2 linked regions of the Homo sapiens genome follow. The protein of the gene in region 2 interacts with the protein of the main gene of each other region in a pairwise test. Each region holds a gene or a part of one and is shown on either strand. Other genes may lie near its edges.

Region 1 (7,283 bases), on a different chromosome or scaffold from region 2:
ATAAATATATATTGAAAATTTAGTTTATACTTTCACCTCTCAGAGTGTTTGTTATACAGCTGAGCATTAGTTGCCCTTTTTGTTTTATGCATTTGTTGGCTATCTGATGTACATAACCAAATCTTAGAGAAGGGATTATTTATTATTAACTCATAACAAATGAATTAGTGAATATTGATTCTCTACCATGTGCAGTCACATATGATTTCGGTTTACTTACTATTGACAACTCATCTATATTCATCATAGGATAATAAGAAATATTGGCCAGGCATGGTGGCTCACGCCTGTAATCCTAATACTTTGGGAGGCCGAGGTGGGCAGATCACTTGAGATCAGGAGTTTGAGACTAGCCTGGCCAACGTGGAGAAACCTTGTCTCTACAAAAAAATACAAAAATTAGCCAGGCATGGTGGCGGGCATCTGTAATCCCAGCTACTTAAGAGGCTGAGGCAGGAGAATTGCTTGAACCTGGGAGGTAGAGGTTGCAGTGAACCAAGATGGCACCACTGCACTCCAGCCTTGGCAACAGAGCAAGACTCCACCTCAAAAAAAAAAAAGAAAGAAAGAAAGAAATATTAATCTTTCTAGTTGCATTCACCAGGAATGAGTTTTGGATTTCTTCTATATTCCAGATCCCTTTAAGATGTACCATGATGATGACCTGGCAGATTTGGTCTTTCCCTCCAGTGCGACAGCTGATACTTCAATATTTGCAGGACAAAATGATCCCTTGAAAGACAGTTACGGTATGGCTTCTTCAAATGGATTTATTCTGTAGGGAAGGAAAAAAATTTTTTCTTTACTCATCTTTGGTTCACTGACTAGGGCTCTGTGACAAAAGATTAACAAGAAAAAAGAGACCAAAGTTTAAAATGTGAATTTAATATGTACATGAGAGGTACCTAGGGAATGAGTAACTCCGCAAGAGGTGGCTTTAGAATTCCACCTTATATAGCTTCTTCAATAAAGAATGACAAATTTTTTTTTTGAGAGGTGAGAAGATGAAGGAAAAGACTTTTGAGTCTCTAGGGGCCGCAAATTGTGGGAGACAGGTAAATGGTAGGTAAAAGCTAGTTAGTAAAGGTTGCTGTGTAGATTCCTATGGTGCCATCTCCAGGCTAATAATAGCCTTCAGCTTAAAAAAGTCCTTATGCCAAAGTAGCGTATTTTGGGGTGGCATATTCTGGTGTCCTTTAGTTGTTTAATGCCAAACAATCAACATGGCCTTTCACACATCACCTTTGAAGCTAACCACTAAGAAAAGTCAGATTTAGGGGCTGTGGGTGTGACAAGGCTCTCTTTGGATTAATCAAAGGAGACAATTCACAGATTCACAGTTGGGCTGTCATCTCCCCTTTTTTTTGAGACAGGGTCTCACTCTGTCACCCAGGTTGGAGTGCAGTGATGCGATCACGGCCCACTGCAGCCTTGGCCTCCTGGTCAGGTGATCCTCCCACCTCAATCTCCTGAGCAGCTGGGATTACAGGTGTGTACCACTATGCCTGGCTAATTTTTTGTAGAGATGGGGTTTTGTCACGTTGCCCAGGCTGGTCTTGAACTCCTGGGCTCAAGTGATCCACCCGCTTCAGCCTCCCAAAGTGCTGAGATTACAGGCGTGAGCCTTTGCACCCAGCCACATTTTTCTACTTCTTCATTTACAGGCAGACACAGTGGCTCATGCCTGTAACCCTAGCACTTTGGGAAGCTGAGGTGACAGGATTGCTTGAGCCCAGCAATTTGAAACCAATCTGGGCAACATAGGGAGATCCTGTCCTACAAAAAATTTTAAAATTCATCCAGGCGTGGTGGCACATGCCTGTAGTCTCAGCTACTCAAGAGGCTGAGGTGGAAGGATTGCTTGAGCCCAGAAGGTCGAGGCTGCATTGAGCCATGATCATGCCACTGTACTCCAGCCTGGACAACAGAGTTGAGACCCTGTCTTAAAAAAAAAAAAAAAAAAAAAAAACCATCTGGGTGCAGTGGCACACGCCCGTAATCCCAGCACTTTGGGAGGCCAAGGCGGATGGATCACTTGAGGCCAGGAGTTCAAGACCAGCCTGGCCAAAATGGTGAAATCCCGTCTCTACTAAAAATACAAAAATTAGGCTGGGCCTAATGGCTCATGCCTGTAATCCCAGCACTTTGGGAGGCAGAGGCGGGCAGATCACCTGAGGTCAGGAGTTTGAGACCAGCCTGGCCAACATGGTGAAACCCCATCTCTACTAAAAATAGAAAAATTAGGCCGAGTGTGGTGGCTCATGCCTGTAATCCCAGCACTTTGGGAGACGGAGGTGGGCAGATCACCTGAGGTCAGGAGTTCGAGACCAGCCTGGCCAACATGGTGAAACACTGTCTCGACTAAAAATACAAAAATTAGCTGGGAGTGGTGGCAGACACCTATAATCCCAGCTACTCAGGAGGCTGAGTCAGAAGAATCACTTGAACCTGGGAGGTGGAGGTTGCAGTGAGCTGAGATTGTGCCATTGCACTCCAGCCTGGGCAACGAGCAAGAATCCATCTCAAAAATTAATAAATAAATATAATAAAAATAAGAAAATTAGCTGGGCAAACAACAACAACAACAACAACAACAAAACTGCTACAAAGTATTTTAATAAAATTGTCTTCTAATGTTGGAAAGGGAGGTGTTAATCTCATTTTGCAGATGAAGAAATTAAGACTCGCAGTTTTTTACTATAGTATATTATGTTGGTTGTGGTGTTGGAACTAGAGTTCAATCATTAATATTTTGAATCTTTATATTACCCTTTATATATTATATAGAAAGTAGCCAGTGAATGTTGATTAATGGCACTACTGGGATATACTATACCACCTACTAACAACTAGCTAAAACCTGAAGAATGTCAGCAGTGTTTCCTTTAAAACTTGTTTGCGTTGTCGGCCGGGCGCGGTGTCTCACACCTGTAATCCCAGCACGTTGGGAGGCCAAGGCGGGTGGATCATGAGGTCAGGAGTTCGAGACCAATCTGGCCAACATAGTGACACCCCATCTCTATTAAAAATACAAAAAAATTAGCCAGGTGTGGTGGTGTGTGCTTGTAGTCCCAGCTACTTGAGAGGCTGAGGCAGGAGAATGGCGTGAACCTGGGAGGCAGAGATTGCAGCGAGCCGAGATCGTGCCATTGCACTCCAGCCCAGGCGACAGTGCGAGACTCTGTCTCAAAAAAAGAAAAAAAACTTTTTTTGCATTGTTTTTTATTAGTCTGTGTCTTCCTGGCAATATATGCAGCTGATTTTAAATATCAAATACCTCTTAGGCCGGGCGCGGTGGTTCACGCCTGTAATCCCAGCACTTTGGGAGGCCGAGGCGGTTGGATCAAGAGGTCAGGAGATCGAGACTATCCGGGCTAACATGGTGAAACCCCGCCTCTACTAAAAATACAAAAAATTAGCCGGGAGCTGTGGCAGGCGCCTGTAGTCCCAGCTACTCGGGAGACTGAGGCAGGAGAATGGCGTGAACCCGGGAAGCGGAGCTTGCAGTGAGCCGAGATCACGCCACTTCACTCTGTCTGCGTGGGCAACAGAGCGAAACTCTGTCTCAAAAAAAAAACAAACAAAACAAAACAAAACAAAAATATATCAAATACCTTTTGTTTCCAATGTTTACTAAGTTTCAAAATGTATTTGTTTGTGTTTCAATATTAGGTATGTCTCCCTGCAACACAGCTGTTGTACCTCAGGGGTGGTCTGTGGAAGCCTTAAACTCTCCACACTCAGAGTCCTTTGTTTCCCCAGAGGCTGTTGCAGAACCTCCTCAGCCAACGGCAGGTAAACTATTAGAGACTCCCTTTATCAGTTAATGGTTGCAGTATTGGTAATCAATATAAATCATCAGGTGTATTTTTTAGCAGCTTACAGCAGGTATAAAAATTTCAGAACAATCACAAATGTTTTGCTTATATTAGTGATATCACCACTGGAGGAATTAAATTGTTGAACTATAACACTTAGGGTTAACGGGCACATAAATACTTTTTTTAAATTTTTTAACATATATATATTTTTTTCATCACATTTTCATTGTATTAGGTATCAGAATTTTTTTTTTTAATTCAGTACAGATTTACGGCCTGGTGTGGTGGCTCACACTTATAATCCCAGCACTTTGGGAAGCTGAGGCAGGCAGATCACTTGAGGTCAGGAGTTCCAGACCAGCCCAGCCAACATGGTGAAACCCCATTTCTACAAAAAATACAAAAATTGGTCTAGGCACGGTGGCTCACGCCTGTAATCCCAACACTTTGGGAGGCCAAGGCGGGCAGATCACCTGAGGTCAGGAGTTCGAGACCAGCCTGGCCAACATGGTGAAACCCCGTCTCTACTAAAAATACAAAAAATTAGCTGGGCGTGGTGGCAGGTGCCTGTAATCCCAGCTACTAGGGAGGCTGAGGCAGGAGAATCACTTGAAACCGGAAGGCAGAGGTTGCTGTCAGCCGAGATTGCGCCACTGCACTCCAGCCTGGGTGAAAGAGCTAAATAAATAAATAAATAAGCTCAGCGTGGTGGCGTGTACCTATAATCCCAGCTACTAGGGAGGCTGAGACAGGAGAATTGCTTGAACCCGGGAGCCGAGATCATGCTACTGCACTCCAGCTTGGGCAACAGCGTGAGACCGTGTCTCAAAAAACAAAAACAAAAATTCAGTACAGATTTAGAACTCTGGAGTTTTTCTTGATAGGAAGCATGACTGACCTGCTGTCCCACAGATTATCTTTCTAATACTAATTCTGTGCCCGTGTTATTTTTGAAGCCTATGTTTTCTCTCTTCTTTGCCATTTCTCCTCCACTACTTGTCCTCCCAGTATTTTACATCTTATTCTTCCAAGTGTTGAGACTGTCAAAGAGTAGGCAGAATATGTTACTTGACATTAGCTTCTTCTTCTTTTTTTTTTTTTTTTTTTGAGACGGACTCTTGCCCTGTCCCCCAGGCTGGAGTGCAATGCCGTGATCTCGGTTCATTGCAAACTCCGCCTCCTGGGTTCTAGCAATTCTCCTGCTTCAGCCTCCCAAGTAGCTGGGATTACAGGCGCCTGCCACTGCATGGCTAATTTCTGTATTTTTAGTAGAGACAGGGTTTCACCATGTTTGTCAGGCTGGTCTCGAACTCCTGACCTCAGATGATCCATCCGCCTCGGCCTCCCAAAGTTCTGGGATTACAGGCGTGAGCCACTGTGCCCGGCCTAACATTAATTCTTAGTTATGTGTACAGTCTTATGGTCACAAAAGCCAAATACTCTCATGCCTGAAGAAAGTAAGCATTTTTAATGCAAAGGTATGAGTAGACAATGATGTGTCCTAAATTTCCAATTTAGTTCCCTTAGAGCTAGCCAAGGAGATAGAAATGGCATCAGAAGAGAGGCCACCAGCACAAGCATTGGAAATAATGATGGGACTGAAGACTACTGACATGGCACCATCTAAAGAAACAGAGATGGCCCTCGCCAAGGACATGGCACTAGCTACAAAAACCGAGGTGGCATTGGCTAAAGATATGGAATCACCCACCAAATTAGATGTGACACTGGCCAAGGACATGCAGCCATCCATGGAATCAGATATGGCCCTAGTCAAGGACATGGAACTACCCACAGAAAAAGAAGTGGCCCTGGTTAAGGATGTCAGATGGCCCACAGAAACAGATGTATCTTCAGCCAAGAATGTGGTACTGCCCACAGAAACAGAGGTAGCCCCAGCCAAGGATGTGACACTGTTGAAAGAAACAGAGAGGGCATCTCCTATAAAAATGGACTTAGCCCCTTCCAAGGACATGGGACCACCCAAAGAAAACAAGAAAGAAACAGAGAGGGCATCTCCTATAAAAATGGACTTGGCTCCTTCCAAGGACATGGGACCACCCAAAGAAAACAAGATAGTCCCAGCCAAGGATTTGGTATTACTCTCAGAAATAGAGGTGGCACAGGCTAATGACATTATATCATCCACAGAAATATCCTCTGCTGAGAAGGTGGCTTTGTCCTCAGAAACAGAGGTAGCCCTGGCCAGGGACATGACACTGCCCCCGGAAACCAACGTGATCTTGACCAAGGATAAAGCACTACCTTTAGAAGCAGAGGTGGCCCCAGTCAAGGACATGGCTCAACTCCCAGAAACAGAAATAGCCCCGGCCAAGGATGTGGCTCCGTCCACAGTAAAAGAAGTGGGCTTGTTGAAGGACATGTCTCCACTATCAGAAACAGAAATGGCTCTGGGCAAGGATGTGACTCCACCTCCAGAAACAGAAGTAGTTCTCATCAAGAACGTATGTCTGCCTCCAGAAATGGAGGTGGCCCTGACTGAGGATCAGGTCCCAGCCCTCAAAACAGAAGCACCCCTGGCTAAGGATGGGGTTCTGACCCTGGCCAACAATGTGACTCCAGCCAAAGATGTTCCACCACTCTCAGAAACAGAGGCAACACCAGTTCCAATTAAAGACATGGAAATTGCACAAACACAAAAAGGAATAAGTGAGGATTCCCATTTAGAATCTCTGCAGGATGTGGGGCAGTCAGCTGCACCTACTTTCATGATTTCACCAGGTACGTGCTTGTGCTTATTCTCAGTATTTCTCTCTACCAGGTTGTAGTCTCGAGAAGACTAAGGACAAACATCATGCCAGGTAAAGTACAGACAGTCACACTGTACTTTGCAAGTTTATTCATACTCCTGCTCTCCTAGACAACTCTTTCCCGCCTTTACCCTCCTCCCACCTCCAACACCTTTTCTATGTTCATTCTCTGCTGATTGTCCTGTTTTTCTTGCAGATAAGTCAAGCAATAAAATAGAACATCGACAAACTTCTATTCCATTATCTACCCAACTACTTGTATCTGTATCCATGGTCTCTGCTTATGAAAGTTCCCGTTTTTATAAGTAAACTGTTCCTGCTCCTAATTAAGACCAACCTCTCCTCATTTTGCCCTAGATTCCATCTCCTCTTTCCTACTCGATATATTGCCCCATGTATTCTTCCCTTTTTTGCCCCTCATACCAATTTAAATCTTTTTTCATTGGATCATTCCCACCCATTTAACAAACGTTTGTTATTTTTCCCATCTTAAAAAACGAAACATTGACCGGGCATGGTGGCTCACACCTGTAATCCCAGCACTTTGGGCGGCCGAGGTGGGCGGATCACCTGAGGTCGGGAATTCAAGACTAGCCTGACCAACATGGAGAAACCCCGTCTCCACTAAAAATACAAAATTAGCCGGGCATGGTGGCGCATGCCTGTAATCCCAGCTACTCGGGAGGCTGAG
Region 2 (6,318 bases):
TCTTCAGAGCCCACCTTGCTGGGTGATCTCTAGGACCCAGGAGCAGAGTGGTGGACAGGACCATGCCCTCCTCAGAACTGGAGCTGCCACAGGGGCAGTTGATGAGGCAGAGGTTTGAGGATCCCCCCTCTGCTACCAGCCCCAGTATCACCTTCCCCATGCTCTTGTGGCTGTGGACTAAGGGAGAAGGATTAAGGGGTATGGCTGAATTCCCCCGGCACCCCTTGCCCTCAGGCTTCCTTCTTCCTTTCCCTTTGGTTAATCCTGCATGGGATTAGCTGACCATCCTGTTTTCCATCCCAGAGCCTCCCAAGGCTGGGAAAGTAGGGCTGAAGGGCTAGATGTTTGGTCTCAGGAAGTGGGGCCCACCCATTCCCAGAAGGAGCTTCTTTACCTCTTAGCCCTGAGGTTTCCTCCTTCCCATCTTCTGTGCTTCCAGAGAACAACTTTGTTCCTATGGTCACCCCCACTATCCCCATGACCGCATGAAGAGGCAGTTATTGCTTTAGTCTTTCATTGCAACCACTGGGCTCCCTTTGAACCCGGCCCAATCTTTGGTCCCAGCATTTTCCCACTCCAGTGTATCCAGGGTGTTCCAGGTGAGCTGGGGAAGGAAGTGAGCATGGCCTCAGCTGCAGATCTCCTGGAGCAGCGGCATCATGGCAGACAGGCCCTGGATGTGCTGGATTTGGTACCCGTAGGCCTCATTAATGCTCCGGAGCTCAGCCAGCAGGCCTAGCAACTTCGCATACAGAAACCTTTGGAGGAAGTAGTGGGGTTGCCAGGAAAACAGGAGGGAAATAAGGCAGTTGGGAGTCTTGTCTCTAGGCCCTGATCCCCTGAACTATTCCTCAGTGAAGCCAGGTCTGAACATTAGAGAAAATCATGCTCTGGTATGACAGACTATCAGAGGTTCCAAAGGTCCTCCAGGGGGCCTCGGTCTGACACTGTCTTCTCTCACCATGCTCAGTTTTTTCTGAACCCAGAGCTCTGAGAGCCGAGTGTGAAGAAAGCTCCAGACTTGGCCAGAACTCCAACCATGTGGAATCTGAGGGCCTGGCCTTCTAGAGCAGGTTCTAGAAGGTGGATGTGTTCTATGGTATAAAGCATCCCCTTTCTGGCCAAACTAGCTCTTGGAGGAACGAGCAAAACAGAAGCGGTGCATACCTCAGAGCCTGGATAAATCACAGACTATTGAACCTGGAACTGGCTTTGACCATGAAACTGTGAATGGCCCTAACTTCAAGGGAAATGAGAAATCGAAGGAATTGGCCCAATGGCGAGGAGAGGAAAGGCCAAGGGAAGAGAAAAGTCTGCGTTAGTCTGGAGAAGTTGGACTAGTGAGGTAATGGATGTCATCAATCTCAGGAATGCTATTACCCAGAGCCTCTGAGCTACTACTTTGCATCTGTACTGAATAAAAAAAAAATCTGGAAAAAGTGAGATGAAACAGCAGTATCCAAATACAGCAATTTGGATGCTGAAACGATGTGAGACAGGGATGGCCAGGGGGAAGGACTAGACCCCACGATACCTGAATTCCCTAAGGAAAGGACAGTAAAAAAACATTCCTCCCAAGCTCAATGTTTCACCAACCCCTTCCTGCCCTGGTGTGGCCTCCAAGCCCTCAGTGTCCCACCGTACCGATCCCGGGGCCTTCGCTGCTGGCCCTTGATGTAGCTTTGCAGAGTCAGTGCCATCTCCTCTTGCAGCTGATCAATCTCATCTCTCTGGGTAACTCCAGGTCGGTCTGTAAGATAGGGAGCTGGGAAGGACAAGTTGGGTGGCAGGGGTGGGCCTGCGTGGTGCCCCGGGGACTGAGGCTGGGATAGACCTAGTCTGCAGGTTTGATAGCTAGGCTAGAAGGCCTGGGTGGATGGACTCAAGGAGCTGAGTATTTGGGCAGAGGTGGTGCAGCAAAAGGCTCTGGGCTTTGGGAGGTGCTCACCAGGAGAGAAGAGGGCCATGGCAGCCAAGAGCACATACTCAGGCTCTTGGAGCTGCAGTTTTCGTAGTGTTCCATGGAAGTGAAAGAGCAACTCCAAAAACTCTACCTGGAACCCCACTGTGGGAGATACTAGGATTAGGAGCCTCTAGGTCACCTGACCACATCCTGTACCATGAGGACACATGCCCCCTATTGCTCTAGCACCATCTCACCACGGGCTCCATCTTCAATTGTGTAGCGAAGAGGCCCGCAGAGGAAGTTTTGTGTTTGGAGACAGAAAGTGGTATTGAGTACGATGTGACAGATTTCCACAGCTGCTCCCTTGAGAAGGGAGATCTGGTCTTCAATGGGCAGGGAACTGTGGAAAGCAGGAAACAAGGACACTTTTCAATTTTTTTTTTTCTGAGACAGAGTCTCACTGTCACCCTGGCTGGAGTGCAGTGGCGTGATCTCTGCTCACTGTAACCTCTGCCTCCTGGGTTCAAGCAATTCTCCTGCCTCAGCCTCCCAAGTAGCTTGGATTACAGGCGTGTGCCACCATGCCTGGCTGATTTTTTGTATTTTTAGTAGAGACGGGTTTTCACCATGTTGGCCAGGCTGGTCTCCAACTACTGACCTCAGGTGATCCACCTGCCTTGACCTCTCAAAGTGCTGGGATTACAGGCATGAGCCACTGCACCCGGCCCACTTTTTAATTTTTTGTTTGTTTATATGTTTTTATTTTTTGTAAAGATGGAGTCTTACTATGTTGCCCAGGGTGGTCTCGAACTCCTAGGCTCAAGCAGTCCTCCTGCCTTGGCCTTCCAAAGTGCTGGGATTATAGGTGTGAGCCACTGTGCCCAGCCGACAAGGGCACCTTATTATTATTCTTATTAATTAATTTATTTTTGAGACAGAGTGTTGCTCTGTCACCCAGGCTGGATGTAGTGGCCTGATCTCGGCTACAGCAAACCTCCGCCTCCTGGGTTCAAGTGATTCTTCTGCCTCAGCCTCCTGAGAAGCTGGGATTATAGGCGCCCACCACCACACCCAGCTAAGTTTTGTATTTTTAGTAGAGACGGATTTCACCATGTTGGCCAGGCTGGTCTCAAATTCCTGAGCTCAAGTGATCCACCCACCTTGGCCTCTCAAAGTGCTGGGATTACAGGCATGAGCCACCGTGCCTGGCCTATTATTATTATTTTTAGCTTTCATTTTTTGAGACAGAGTCTCACTCTGTCACCCAGGCTGGAATGCAGCGGTGCTATCTGAGCTCACTGCAGCCTCAACCTCCTGGGCTCAAGTGATCCTCCCACTTCAGCTTCCTGAGTACCTGGGACTACAGGCACCCACCATCATGCCCAGCTAATTTTTGTATTTTTTGTAGAGTTGGGGTTTTGTCATGTTGCTGAGGCTGGTCTCAAACTTCTGGACTCAAGCGATCTGCCAGCCTCCGCCTCCCAAAGTGCTGGGATTACTAGTGTGAGCCACTGCGCGGCACCTCAAGGGCACTTTAGATGCAAGCCTGTACTTCAGAGATGGAGAAGAACTCCCAGTTCTGATTGGCACATTTAAAACCAAAGCTGGGAATTCAAGACCTAATGCTTGGAAAGGCTGACGCATGTGATAATTTGTAGTCAGTGACTTTTCGGGGTGGATATACAATTTACTGAAGTGTTTGCCTCCTGAAAGATGAGGGGAGGTCACTCACCGGAAGACGGGCAGGTCCTTAGTAAACTTGATGACTTGCAGTACCATGAAAGTGTTGATGTCTGCGAAGTGTGTGACCAGAGGCAGCACAGGGGCCAGGGTGGGCAAGGGCTGGTGATGGATGAACAGATGAGCTGGAGGCTGCAATGATCAGAACATTAGCTAGAGGCTCTGGCCCTAGGGCCCTCCTTTAGGCCTCGCCAGCCTTATCTTGGAAGAGTTCCTTGCTGAGAAGCCTGCTCAGGCTGGGGTTCTGGAGATCTGTTCTCAGTATCAGTGCATGGCATACACCCCTCTCCTTCAGACCAGCATTTTTGGGTGCCCTTTTAGTTGTATTCCAACCCAAATCCTGTCGGTGCTCACCCTAAACTGCACAAACTGTTCAAACATGGTGCCCATGTGGCGGGTGTGGGCCCCCAGGAGTGTCCGGATCAGCTCTTCTTGCTCCTTACTCAGTTGCACAGGTGTTTGCTGTGCCCGCCGCTGGGCCTGCTTTGCTCGCCGCAATGCCAGGGCTTCTGCCGACAGTATCACTGTGCCAGGCAAGAGATCATGACAAAGCTGTTGAGACCAGCAGAGCATTTCTCTCTGCTGGTCCCTGATCTGGGGCCCCTCAGCTGCCCTGCACAACGAAGGATGGGGGCAGTGGGGGGAATTCCTGAGACTTTCTTGGGCTTGGCTAAAGTCCTAGAGGCTCCAGGAGGCAGGGGGCTCCTATACACTTCCACCAACCTGTGAAGAACTGCAGCAGAAAACTGCACTGTGGGGGAGAAGGGAAGGGTGGCGAGGAAAGTATGAAAGATGTGAGGAAAGGTGCGAGGGCTTTTGGGGAAACAGTGTAGAGGGAGGGGTCTTCATACCTAGAACATCACTTTATATGATGTTTTCAAATAATCCTTCAAAAATAATCAAATAATCCTTTCAAATAAACCTTTATCTGATGTTTTAGCAAAATTTCAAAACTTCTGAGGTTAAATCCCACTGAATGAAACAACCCCAGGATAGGCAGGGCTGGTATTCATCATATATATATGTGTGTGTGTGTGTGTGTGTGTGTGTGTGTGTGTGTGTGTGTGTGTGTGTATATGTGTGTGTATATATATGTGTATATATGTATATATATGTGTATACATGTATATATGTGTATATATGTGTATATATATGTGTATATATATATTTTTTTGTTTGTTTTGTTTTGTTTTGAGATGGAGTCTGTCACTCTGTCGCCCAGGCTGGAGTGCAATGGAGCAATCTCGGCTCACTGCAACCTCTGCCCCCTGGGTTCAAGCAATTCTCCCTGCCTCAGCCTCCTGACTAGCTGGGATTACAGGCACCCACCATCACGCCCTGCTAATTTTTTTTTTTTTTTGTATTTTTAGTAGAGACGGGGTTTCACCATGTTGGCCAGGCTGGTCTCGAACTCCTGACCTCAAGTGATCCACTCACCTCGGCCTCCCAAAGTGCTGGGATTACAGGCGTGAGCCACTGCACCCAGCCCAATCACATTTTTTAGAAATGTGGACAGGCTTAGATTCTGGTGACAGAACCAAGGTCACAAAATAAGTAATATAGATTGAATTCAAACCAAAATCTTTTGACTTCTGCAAAAGATCCAAGATCAAACCAAGATCTTGAATTCAGACCAAGATCCTTTGACTTCTACAGTTTCCTTTCATTCTTCCATAGTGAGAATCGTGTGATATGGAAAAAGCAAGAGTTTGGGAGTCAGGTAAACTTGAGTTTGAATACTGACTGTACAACTTCTTCTTCCTTCTTCTTTTCCTAGAGAGGACATCTCACTCTGTTGACCAGGCTGGTCTTGAATTCCTGACCTCAACAATCCTCTTGTCTCAGCCTTCCAAAGTGCTGGGATTAGAGGTGTGAGCCACCGTGCTCGGCCTGCACAAGTTTTTAGTTGAATTAACTTGGGCAAATTAACTTCCGTGAGCCCCAGTTACATCCTCCTTTGGGAGCATAGCACAGTTACCTGGCACAGAGAAAGCATTAATTAAGTTATTGAGCACCTACTAGGTGACAGGCACTATACTCAACAGATAGAAAATAAAAAACACACCTGTAATCTGAGCACTTTGGGAGGCGGAGGTGGGCAGATCGCCTGAGGCCAGGAGTTTGAGACCAGCGTGGTCAACATGGTGAAAGCTCATCTCTACTAAAAATACAAAAAATTAGCTGGGTGTGGTGGCACATGCCTGTAATCCCAGCTATGCAGGAGGCTGAGGCAGGAGAATCACTTGAACGCAGGAGGCGGAGGTTGCAGTGAGCCGAGATGGCGCCACTGCACTCCAGCCTGGGCAACAGAGTATGAGACTCTATCAAAAAAAATAGAAAGAAAAGAAAAGACAAGACTAGCCATGTGGCTATCTAGGAGAAAAGCATTTCAGGTAGAGGAAATGGCAAGTGGAAAAGCCTTGGGGAAGAGTGCGCTTGGTGTTTTTTTTTTTTTTTTTTTTTTTTTTGAGTCGGAATCTGGCTCTGTCACCCAGGCTGGAGTGCAGTGGCGCGATCTCGGCTCACTGCAAGCTCCGCCTCCCGGGTTCACGCCATTCTCCTGCCTCAGCCTCCCGAGTAGCTGGGACTACAGGCGCCCGCCACTACGGCCGGCTAATTTTTTTTGTATTTTTTTAGTAGAGACGGGGTTTCACTGTGTTAGCCAGAATGGT

The links.
Region 1: the proteins of NR1I3 (region 2) and MAP4 interact in a two-hybrid assay, tested with the Homo sapiens proteins (one study listed by BioGRID).

Annotation. Positions count from the first base shown.
Region 1 is NC_000003.12:47,915,231-47,922,513, reverse strand, and holds part of MAP4 (microtubule-associated protein 4), read left to right. Parts: intron 1-635; coding exon 636-749; intron 750-3,672; coding exon 3,673-3,795; intron 3,796-5,339; coding exon 5,340-6,563; intron 6,564-7,283. UniProt on the Homo sapiens protein: Non-neuronal microtubule-associated protein. Promotes microtubule assembly.
Region 2 is NC_000001.11:161,229,169-161,235,486, forward strand, and holds the end of NR1I3 (nuclear receptor subfamily 1 group I member 3), read right to left. Parts: intron 4,171-6,318; coding exon 4,001-4,170; intron 3,779-4,000; coding exon 3,639-3,778; intron 2,307-3,638; coding exon 2,161-2,306; intron 2,078-2,160; coding exon of another isoform or gene 2,066-2,077; coding exon 1,949-2,065; intron 1,766-1,948; coding exon of another isoform or gene 1,751-1,765; coding exon 1,645-1,750; intron 1,579-1,644; exon of another isoform or gene 759-1,578; coding exon 629-758; 3' UTR 605-628; coding exon of another isoform or gene 514-604; 3' UTR 501-513; downstream 1-500. UniProt on the Homo sapiens protein: Binds and transactivates the retinoic acid response elements that control expression of the retinoic acid receptor beta 2 and alcohol dehydrogenase 3 genes.